Linked DNA regions of Homo sapiens: region 1 is linked to region 2. Evidence: fine-mapped expression QTL. A gene starts in region 2. The other region holds a variant in brackets. All regions are shown on one strand. Distances are between the middles of the regions.

The links. PIP is the estimated chance that this variant, and not a neighbour inherited with it, causes the effect.
Region 1: its variant is the best candidate, but not a certain one, in a credible set for the expression of SEMG1 in whole blood (TOPMed, PIP 0.86).

The regions. Positions count from the first base shown.
Region 1 is chr20:45,270,383-45,275,769 of GRCh38, reverse strand. All of the region lies in intron 2 of LOC105372630 (a long non-coding RNA gene), which reads right to left. Among named protein-coding and RNA genes, the nearest start is that of SLPI, 19 kb to the right of the region's middle. The variant A/G (reference allele first, on the strand shown) is at 2,442.
Region 2 is chr20:45,205,018-45,210,404 of GRCh38, reverse strand. It overlaps SEMG1 (semenogelin 1), which reads right to left and starts at 3,372. Exons shown (of 3, transcript NM_003007.5): 1 at 3,276-3,372; 2 at 1,675-3,031; 3 at 637-804. The coding sequence starts at 3,351. The coding sequence ends at 1,719.

The DNA.
Region 1 (5,387 bases), 65 kb before region 2:
GCAGTCCTCTCCTTTGACCATGGAAGTGGCCACAGAAACTCTTACTTTTTCCTCAAGTCTGAAATATCTCTTAGACTGTGACATAGGAACACATCCCTACACCTCAGTTTTCTTATTTGTATAACGAGACCATAAAACTAACTAATTCATAAAATTTACTGTGAGAGTTAAATGAGAGATAGCATGTGGAATTGGACCTCAGCTCACTCTGACGACAGAGTCTTATCTTCTTTTTGTACCTGGGGCAGACAGCCAGTTGGATGGCCTCAGGAGCTGTTATTTTTTCAGGCTGCCATTGATTTTTAGATTTAAAACTTCTGCACTTCAAAAAAAAAACTATTAAGCAAATGAAAGTCAGTCACTAGGACTTGGAGAAAATATTCACAATACATGTACCTGACAACGGATGATTACATTGTGCAAAGGATATGTGTATATTAACAGAATATAGATATATAAAGAGCACCTATGACTCAGTCACACGAAGACAAAAAACAAAAAAGGGCCAAAGACTTAAATAGCTATTTCACAAAAGAAGATACATGAATGGTCATTATCGGCACATGAAAAGATGCTTAACATTGTTAATTACCAGAAAATGCAAATGTAATCCACAATGAGATATTACTTTGTATCCACTAAAGTGGCTAAGACAAAATGGACTGACAATATTAAGTGATGGTGAGGATGTGAAGCAACTAGAATTCATATGCATTGCTGCTGGAAATTCAAAATGGTACAACCACTTTGGAAAATTTTGGTAGTTTATGATGAAGTTAAATATACATCTACCCTATGACTTGCAATTTTACTCCTAGGCATTTACTCAAGAAAAATGAAAGCATATGTCCATATAAAGATTTGAAAAGAATATTTAAAAATGCTCTATTCATAATAGCCCCAAACTAGAAAAAATCCAAATGCCTGTCAATAGAAGAATGGATAAAAAGATTGTGGATATTCATATAATGGAATATTACTTAGCAATAAAAAGGAACAGGTTGTCAACACAGGCAACAACGTGGATGAATCTCAAAAACATTATGTTTAACCAAAAAAACTAGACAAAAGATTACATACAATATAATTCCATATATCTGACATTCTAGAACACGCAAAACTAATCAATAGTGAAAGAAAGCAGATCAGTGGCTGCCTAGGGCAGGGATTTATTCCCTAGCGGGTAGCAAAGTTGATTATAAAGGAACACAAAGAAAATATTCCGGAGTGATGGAAATATTCTGTATCTTGCTGGGGCAGTGGTTACATGTGTGTATACATTTATTAAAACACATCAACTAGTACATTTGAAACCTGTGCATTTTATTAAATGTAAATTATATGTATGATAGAACTAAAAATGATTCATGCTTTAAGGTTTAATAGTTTAGAGAATCCCCCTCTGGTCCCAGGCCTCTCTTGTGGATAGTGTTCAGCTCTGGTTGACAGACACTTAATCTCCAATGTTCTTTTTTTCAAGGTCTTGTCAGAGCTCCAAACTTCAATTCCTCATGACAGATTGCAGCTTCCTTCATTAGCAATTTGATAAATGGGATGCCTTCCTCTAAGCCCTTGAGAGATTGCCAGAAATGCCCCGGTATGTCTCTGATAAAAATCATTTCTGGGGTGACTGTTGGTGGAAGTCATTCAAGCTCTCCCATTATCAGTCTATTTCCCTATCTTTTAACACAAACCTTTTCTGCCTTTGCCTCAGATTCCAGGTCTCATCTTCCCTGAGACCTCAAGCTCCCCTCTGTAGGGATTTCATCACTGAGGAGAAGCACCCTCTTACCAGCCTACATAGAATTTTATTCTGGGAAATCATTGGGGGCGGGGGGACATTTAACAAGTACAAGTCAGGAATGGTTTAGGTGGGAAAACCCCAGCTGGGGAATGGTTGGACCACACAGTTGTCATCTGTGTAGGAGATGTTGCAGTCCCATCTGTCATCTGTCACCCATTGATTATCAGGGAGGATTTGAATGATCTGATCTTTCCTTATTTTTCCTAATTTCCCAATCTTTTTCTTTGTCATCCAGCTTAGCAGAGTTTTTTTTTCACTGTGGCCAACACTACCATGAGGGCATCTGGCCACCAACCCAGTTGCCTGACCCCAGACTGGGGGTGATATGCCAGTGCCTTTATCCCAGCTTGGTATAAGTTCGCATTTTTAAAGGACCTTTTCTAATTAAGAACAAAGAAAACCATAAATGTCCAGACACGGTTTAGGGGCCCCAGGGATGGGCAAAGTTGGAGAGTGAAGTGGCTTCTTTCTGAATGCATTCACTTGTTCATTCCACAAGTTATTTTCTGCATCTGATGTTTATTGAGCACTGACTATGTGTCAGGTCCTATGCCTTGCATCTAAGACAAAGATATGAACCAAACACAAAGGTTCCTACATTCATAGAGCTAGCATCCCTAGTTATTGAGTACTGGGT[A/G]TGTGTTATTTTGCTATGAATACAGAGGTGAAAAAGATTGATACAGTCCCTACTCTCAAAGGGCTCTCAGTCCAGTGCAGGAAGATACAGATTAACAGGTAGATGTAATGTAGAAAAAAGGAGAAGGTTGGGGAACATCAGAGGAGCATCCAACAGACAAGGAAATCAGAATTTAAGTGATAGAGGCATGAACTAGACTTCCAGCAATGGGTCTTAATCTTTTTGGGATCTAAGCCATTTTGAGAAGCTGATGAACTCACACCTCTGAAAAATGCACATGACAGTGGCATATCATTTCCTGGGATTTATGGATCCCAGAAGGGATCTAAGGACCTCAGATAAAGAAGCCCTGACAGAGAAATAAGGCCTCAGAGTGGAATCGGGACAGCCAGAATGGCCCCATCTAAGAAAGAAACCCCTGCCCTTCCCAAAGAAACCTGCTTGGAGGTGGGAGCTGGCTAAGGGTTCACCTCTACTGGGGCTGGGGGGATGGAGAAAGCATGGCATTTCCTGGAGGCCCAGGAGTGTCAGTGCTAGGAGGGGTCTTCACCTTGACTTAACACAACCCAGCACACTCTTTATACAGATGGGAAAATTAAGGCTTGGGAAGGGCAATACCTTACCCCTCCCAAGCCATTCAAGATTATGCATTGAATCAGAAACAAGTTCCCAAGAATTCTTGTCTCTGAGCTTCCATTCAGAGAGAATGGTGCACAGAGTAGAGGGACTCCAGCCAAAGCTAAAGATAGCAAAGCTAAGGCAGTGGAGAGGGAACTGCAGTCTTAGACAGAGGAGACAGAACCAGGTTGGGCTAGTGGTCAACTAGTCTGAACTAGATCTCCCCAGAGATGAGTGTCTGAAGTGACAGAAGAGACTGACATCCCCTCTGAGATCCAACCTGGCAGGAAGGACATTGTAATGATAATAATAATAACCACTCTTTTAGACTTACTGCAAGCCAGACACTGAGCTGGGTGCTTGATGATTGTTCTGCCATTTACTTGTCCCAGTAACCCTAGGAATGCATGAATAAGTCTGCTTCACATAGGTTAATGAAAACAGCAGAAGTCTCTTCACTTGCCCAAGATCACACAGGAAACAAATTGTCGAGCTAGTCTTTGAACTCAGGTCATGCTAATCCCACAGTTTACCTCTTAGTCGTAATTGTGTCTATGTGTTTCTTATTCACATTTGTATTCCCAGTAGGCATTTGTGAGGGATTGAATGAGTAAACAAGAGTTAGGAAGAAGTATTGGATGCTGGCTGGAGAAGGCTCAGTTGGATTCGAGAAGCCAGATTGAGTCAAGAGGCATGTGGCAGCAGGGAACAGGCCCCAGGGAGTGCCCATGGGGGTAACTCTACCTGGCAGGTGACTTGAGCAGGGCTCCTCCTCTCAAGTCTCAGTTTTCTTCTGCTGAGAAATGGTTGATTTGGCCTAGATGATCTTCGAGACGCCTTCCAGTGCTAACACACTATGGTTTTGGGATTTAGAACCAAGAACCAGGTCAGGATGGCTCTGAGCTACTAATATAAAACCTGATTCTGACCCAGAGGGTACTTGGGGACTAGACGGAGGTGACCACAAAATTGTAGGTGGACCAGGAAGACTGGGCACAGAGAAGGGAAACAAAAACCTTCCATTAGGTAAGTCTGCCAACAAAAATAGGAAAGTATATGCATAAAAATAATGCTGGGAAAGCAAGCTATTTCAGACAGTTGACAAAACCAAGGGATAACCTTTTCCTGAGTTAGAGCTAATTTTGGTTAATTTAATACAAGCCACAAGGCTGAAGTTTTAGAAAACCAAGATACCTAGAAACCAATCAAATGGTTTTTCTGTTGCCCTAAAGTCTGTTTCCAAAACACTATTCAGCCATCACCACATTGATTCCAGTCCTAGTAATAGTAGGATAGTAATGGTGGGAAGGAGCATAGAAGGTTTTTATCATAACTTTATTTATTTATTTTGAGACAGAGTCTTGCTCTGTTGCCCAAAGTGCAGTGGTTTTGCCAGGATGATCTTGAACTCCTGGACTCAAGCAATCTGCCTGCCTTAGCCTCCCAAAGTGCTGGGATTACAGGCATGAGCCACCCCACCCAGCTATAATTTTATTTTTAAGAAAGGAAGTGTTCTTTTGTCTTTCCCGATCTCTCTTGATGCACAAATGATTGGCTGTAGTAAAACCTATGTTAATTCCACTGCTTCCCTTGAGGCAGGTTCCATAGGCACGTCCTACCGTGCTTTGAAACTAAACAAAACAGCCAGCTGGCACAATGTTTCCATAGAGAGAAACTTCTCACAGGTACTTTGTAATCACTTCATGTCCTGTTTGTTGCAACACATAAATTTTGTTTCTGAGAAATGTACACCAATCTTGGTATAACTTGCTTAATTGTGATACTCAATTTAATTTCACTTTTAAACCAATACTGAGAAAAATAGTTGTTAGTGTTGGGAGGTTCCAGGATTATAAAAGGCATTTTGATTAGGGACCTCTTGAAACAGCAACAAACTTAACAATTGTCACTCGAGACAAAATGTAAGTAACAGCCTAATCCCCAAAATCACCTTGAAATAAGAATTTTAAGACTTTTAGGGGGATAAAAGGAATAAGATCCATAAAAAGAGAAGAGGTTCCATAAACATCCATCCACCCATGTTTTCTTAACATCCATAAAAGACATTAGGAAATAAAACCAGGTAGATATGAATCAAGAACAGATGGATATGGAAAAAATAAGAGTGTGTAAACGCACCCAATTCAAGTTTTAGAATGAGGGAAAAGAGAGAGGAGGATATTTAGAGAAGTAATAGGAGATAAAAATTTTTATTTGTATTTGTATTTTTGAGGTGGGGTCTCACTCTGTCACCCAGGCTGGAGTGCAGCGGCACAATCTTGGCTCACTGTGACCTCCACCTCCTGGGCTCAGGTGACCCTCTCACCT
Region 2 (5,387 bases):
TTTCTCACTCCCCTATGTTGGCCTCTTCTCCTGAAGGTTTAGATTTCTCTGGAAACTTTTTTAAAATAGAGGGGGAAAAGGCAGTATAGGCAGCAGTATTTCCATTATGAAGACACCACCTGCCTCAAGATTCCTTTGACTGGTCATCTGGTCTTTCCATCCACAGGTGACATTTTAACCCACTTGCTGTTACTGAAGTTGTGCAGATTTAACATATCACCTTTGGTGTAATTGCATCTCAATGGATACTGTAGGCGTAAGACATTCTTAAGCTAATTGAAGGGATGTGCTACTGTGGAATTGATCACCAGCAGATCAGGGACTTTCCCAGGGCCTGTTGCAATACATTTTCTCTTGTCTTTCTGGGATATTTTTAGTTCCTGGGGTCTTATTAGTACCAGGGTCATGAAAGCCTTTAGTGTTGGCCTCAGGTGGTAGACATGTGACTGGTAGACTAACAGCACCCTATTTTTAGTGTTGGTTTCTATCAATATATCTTGAAATGTGGCTTTGATTACTATTCTCCCTAGTGCTTCAAAAATATCCCTTTATTTTCTTTCAAAACCACTTACATTAGAAATGCCCTCAACCCCTTGAGCCACTAGGAATCCAGAGAAAACAGGAGTCAAAAGCAGATGAAGCAGAAAATGATCTCTTTATTGGAAGTTTGAAGGCGCTTCAGGTTAGGAAAGCCTAATTCAAGGAAGCATGGGCAGGTGGTGTCATCCATGGACCAAGAATCTGAAACTACACGGGAGTCTGCATCTCAGAAACATCACAGAATTCACTGAGGTCAACTGACACCTAGAGAGAAAGAAGAGAATCAGTGATGTGAGTATAGTAAAAAGTGAAGGGTGGGGATGGTAGCTGGGCCCCCTGTCCCCTTCAGCTCCAACTGTACCAGCCCTCTACTACTAGGATACCAGGCCACTAGTTGCCAGCTGGGGCCACTGTTTCTACTGCTTGCCCTCTCTTCAAGTGCAGTGTTACTTACTGCAAAGAGGCAGGGAAGCACCATTACCCCTCTCAGGGCTTCAGTTTTCTTCTCCTGATGTTGTAAACACCCAATTGGCCCATGAGATCCCTCACCATCTCTTGTGTCTCCCTTTCCATCTTCTCTTTCACAACATGAACAAGGATCTTTCTACATATCTCTTTCCTGTATTCTGAGAGGGAGGACTGATAGTCTTTGGGCTTGTGGTCTCTGAAGGAGCATAGATGAACCCTAACAGGGATGCAAGAACATTCACTGGTGTGCAGAAAGAAAACATTAATGGCTGTAATCCTTTATACTATATAGGAAAGAAACTGAGGTTTACTAATCTAAAGTATAAGAACTGACAAGAGTATACCATAAACTTATAAATATGCATATGTAGTCAGTACCTGTTCAAAAAAACCTTTAGCAGGTAGGCATATACAAAAAAATATTATTGAAGAATATTCAATTAAGGATAGGAATTCTAGGACCTCATGATAGGCCAAACATCCTTCTGTGCCACTACCAGACCCTCTCCTCACCAGGGAATGGGGAGGCTCATCTTCCTACCACTTGTTATACAGCACTTCTATTGGTGCGAACAATGGTTATCAATCCCACAAAAGTCCTGGAGAGTCCCCAACAATTCTAAACAATGAGAGAGATATCTCCCCTATTTGCTAAAAAAAAATTACCTTGATATTGGTCCATCCTTTCACATGGTTACCGAATGGTAGGTTTATGTAAATAATGGGTTTCGGTCGTTGTTAAGATGTTGTGCCAAATGACGATCACTGTCATCTTCCTGCTCTATAATTACAATATCCAATCCCCCATGAGATCCATGTTGGTGTCTGCCTTTTTGTTCATGACTGAGTAGGTCTTGTTCTCTATTTGTAGATTGGCCAGACTCTCCTTTTGCATTTTCACCATGCCATGGCTCTTGCTTAGGATTTGGTGCCTGGATTTGAGACTTGCCTGCTACTAGCTTTTCAGTTTGGCTATAAATACTGCGTTGGGATACATCTTTCTGCACACCATTTTCTCCATAGTGGAGTCGTCTTTCTTCCGTACTTGAAGATTGGTATGATATTTTATTTGCCTTTTGGCTATGCTCTTGCTCTTGACTGGGAATTGTTATCTGTTTTTGAGACTTGCCCTGTGCTTTCTCTTCAGTTTGGCTATAAATACTGCTTTGGGATACATCTTTCTGCACACCATTTTCTCCATAGTGGAGTCGTCTTTCTTCTGTACTTGAAGATTGGTATGATATTTTATTTGCCTTTCGGCCATGCTGTTGATCTTGATTGAGATTTTTTGTCTGGTGTTGATTCTTGTTATATACTAGGAGCTCATCTTGGGTAGAAAAAATGTCTTTGGATCCATGTTGGAGTTTGTCTTGGTGCGCAGGACAGAGTGAGGTTTGTACTTTACTTGAATGTTCCTCTCTCACTTCAACCACATTTTGGTAATGCCCTTTATTTTGATGAGAATTTTTAGTCTCACGTTGTTGTTTGTTAGCTACTAGCTCTTCAGTTTGGAGAACATAACTGCTTTGGGATCCGCCTTGTTTTCTACCTTTTTGTGCACCAGAGACGGAAGTTTGTTCTTTACTTAGTCCATGAACCCACAGCCTTTCTTCTGTGTTTGAATATTGACTGGATATTCCCTTTCCAGATGGGCTATTCCCCTGATCTTGAGAAGGATTTTGTGTCCCACGATGAGCTTTGCCTCCTTTATGGTGTATAACTACCCTGTGAAAATGACCTTTTGATTTATCATGGTCTCTGCCTTCTTGTTTATTATGGAGCAGTTGTTGACTTCCACCTAGATGTCGTTGTGATTTTGTCGTCTTATGTAGGGCATTCAAATCATATTGCTGACTTTTTCGGGACTGGTCATGATCATTGGCATCTACATGATATGTGTATTGAATAGAAAAACTGCCTTTGGATTCAGTTTGTTGCTTGCCTTTTTGTCCAGAATAGTGCTGGCCCTTTTGTCCGTGTGGAAATTGGGAAAATTCACTTGGTAATCGGCCTTTTGATCCACCTGGTAATTGATAATAAGAAGGTATGCATTCATTATCTCCAAAGCTCCCTTACAACTCTTACCCCCCACTTTTCCCCCAACAAATTATTGATATTTCTAGAAAAGCTGAAGCTTTGGGTGGAGAAAATCAATTCTCTTCAAAGAGAAGAATCTGTGCCTAAACAGGTTACTGTTTGCACCCCAAATAATCTTAGATTATTAGCTGTCTGAGCAGCTTTCCCCAAGGCTTACCCTCTCCACTCACCTTTTTGTCCCATCACAGCTGCTTGCTTCTCCAAGATGAGGAGCAGGGAAAGTACAAAGATGATGTTGGGCTTCATCTTGCTTGGAAAACCTTGTCTGAGAGCTGAGCCGACCTTGTCATTTATATCTTCCTTGAGTGAGTGTGCCATGGGTGGAGCTTAAATTACAAAAGGCACTGACTTTTCTTAGCTTATCAGTAAATGCCAACTTCCTCACCCCTGCTGAGTGTGGGACAAAGTCAATGTCCCCAGCAACATAATGTCAAAGGCATTTTCTTTCTTCTGGCAGCCCCAGCAAATTTTTATCAGTCCTTTTAGATCATCATGCCAGATCACTTTAATTTTACAGAATTATAGACAAAAGTAGGAAAGAGACTGGCTTCAGGCTACAAAAGCAATTGGTTTCTGAGAATGCCTTTATATTCTAAATGTGAGTTTCCCTTCATGATGCAATAATTTAAATACTCTATTTTAGATAGAACTCCATACTTCCTTTTGTTTTAAAAATGATCTTGAGACACGTTCTATTTTACCTAAGAATGAGCAATCATAGAAGTCCAATGATATAGAAGATAATGAAACGTTATGGAATCCAAAGAAAGAAATTTTAAACAAGTAAATGGGGCACTCCAATGTCAAATATGTCTGTCAAGTTCAACACAATAAAGACTGACATGTATCCAAAGTTTTTCTTAGTTGTTGCTAGTAACTTTAATGAGAGATGAATACAATTGCATTGGGTTGTCAGTTGAAGGATGGAGACCAGCTGCAACCTTCTCAGGAAGTCTGAATTCATGGTGGAGTGAGAGCTGAGGCTGTATCTGGAGGGTGAGGTAAGTTCCAGATGTGTTTTCAAAGGATGAAAGAATTTTAATATGCTTTCATGGTGATAGGAACAACTGTTGGAAAAAAAGTAAAAATGCTGGTTTCTAGATTGGGTTCTTTTCATGAAATCTACCTAAACAGCAGAATTTTCTTTTTAATTAAGAGAAGTTTCTACTTCAGTAGTAAACAGCTGAATCCCCAAACAGGCTGTGAGAAATATTTGCCACCATCAATGAATTGAATAATGTATTGTGAGTGGACATGAAGCTAAAATTCCCACCTTTGGTAGAAGCATAGATTTTTCCAATTGTGATGACATCCTGAAAAGTCTGAAGAAACTTTCTTTACTTTGAGTCATAAAGACTTCGTTATGAGCAGACCACAGGAGAAGAAGAAAGCATCCCAACAGTGTCCCTGTGTACATTCAGAACACCTTGGAGGGTAGTGCTGGGGAAAGGATAGCTTGAAAACTTATTTTCAATTATTCTGTCTTAGAATCTTAACCTTCCTGTAGGCAATGCTCTATGGAAGGGGAAAAGAGAAAGGCCAACCACAGAAAAAAAGTGCTATGCTATCAAACATAAATCATGTGAGCTGCATGGTTTCTCTATGAGCCACTCTGAGATCTTACCAAATTTATCTGTTTGCCTCAAAGGCAGTAAGTAGTTCCTTATTGCAGAAACCCCAACAGAGTAAGGTGATATTGTTCTGAACTAAAATTGATTACTGTGTCTGCTAACCACTGTAATCTTCCTCACACTTCCCTTAAGAAAATACCAGAAACTGTTCTGTTCCAAACTTACTGATACAAAATAGAGTCTGAAATATTAATCTTACTTATGGATCAAGAACAAAACTTTCATCTCATCTAGTGTCCAAAAGATGCAGATAAAACAAAAGGGCACAATATTTGCAAAAACAAACCAGGAAAATGCAATCCAAGCAAAACATGTGATTACTATATTCATATTAGAATTGAATTCAATGAAATGTGGAAAAAAACATTTCCAAATGATAAAGGAATGTATTGATAAAGTTGAAATCAGAAATCAGTGATTTGGAAAGCATAAAAATGGTATGGTGATGCATACATCTTAGATATGGAATTATGATGGGGGAAAAGATTAAGTGATCAAATGATTTGTCCTGTTGGACAAATAAAAAATGCAAAAATATTAAAGTGCACTAAATTGGCACAAAAATCTGAAAGTTTTATACTCATAGGAAAAGAAGAAAACAGGAGGACTTAAATGTATTTTGCTCAATTCTATGGGAAATCACTTTACAAC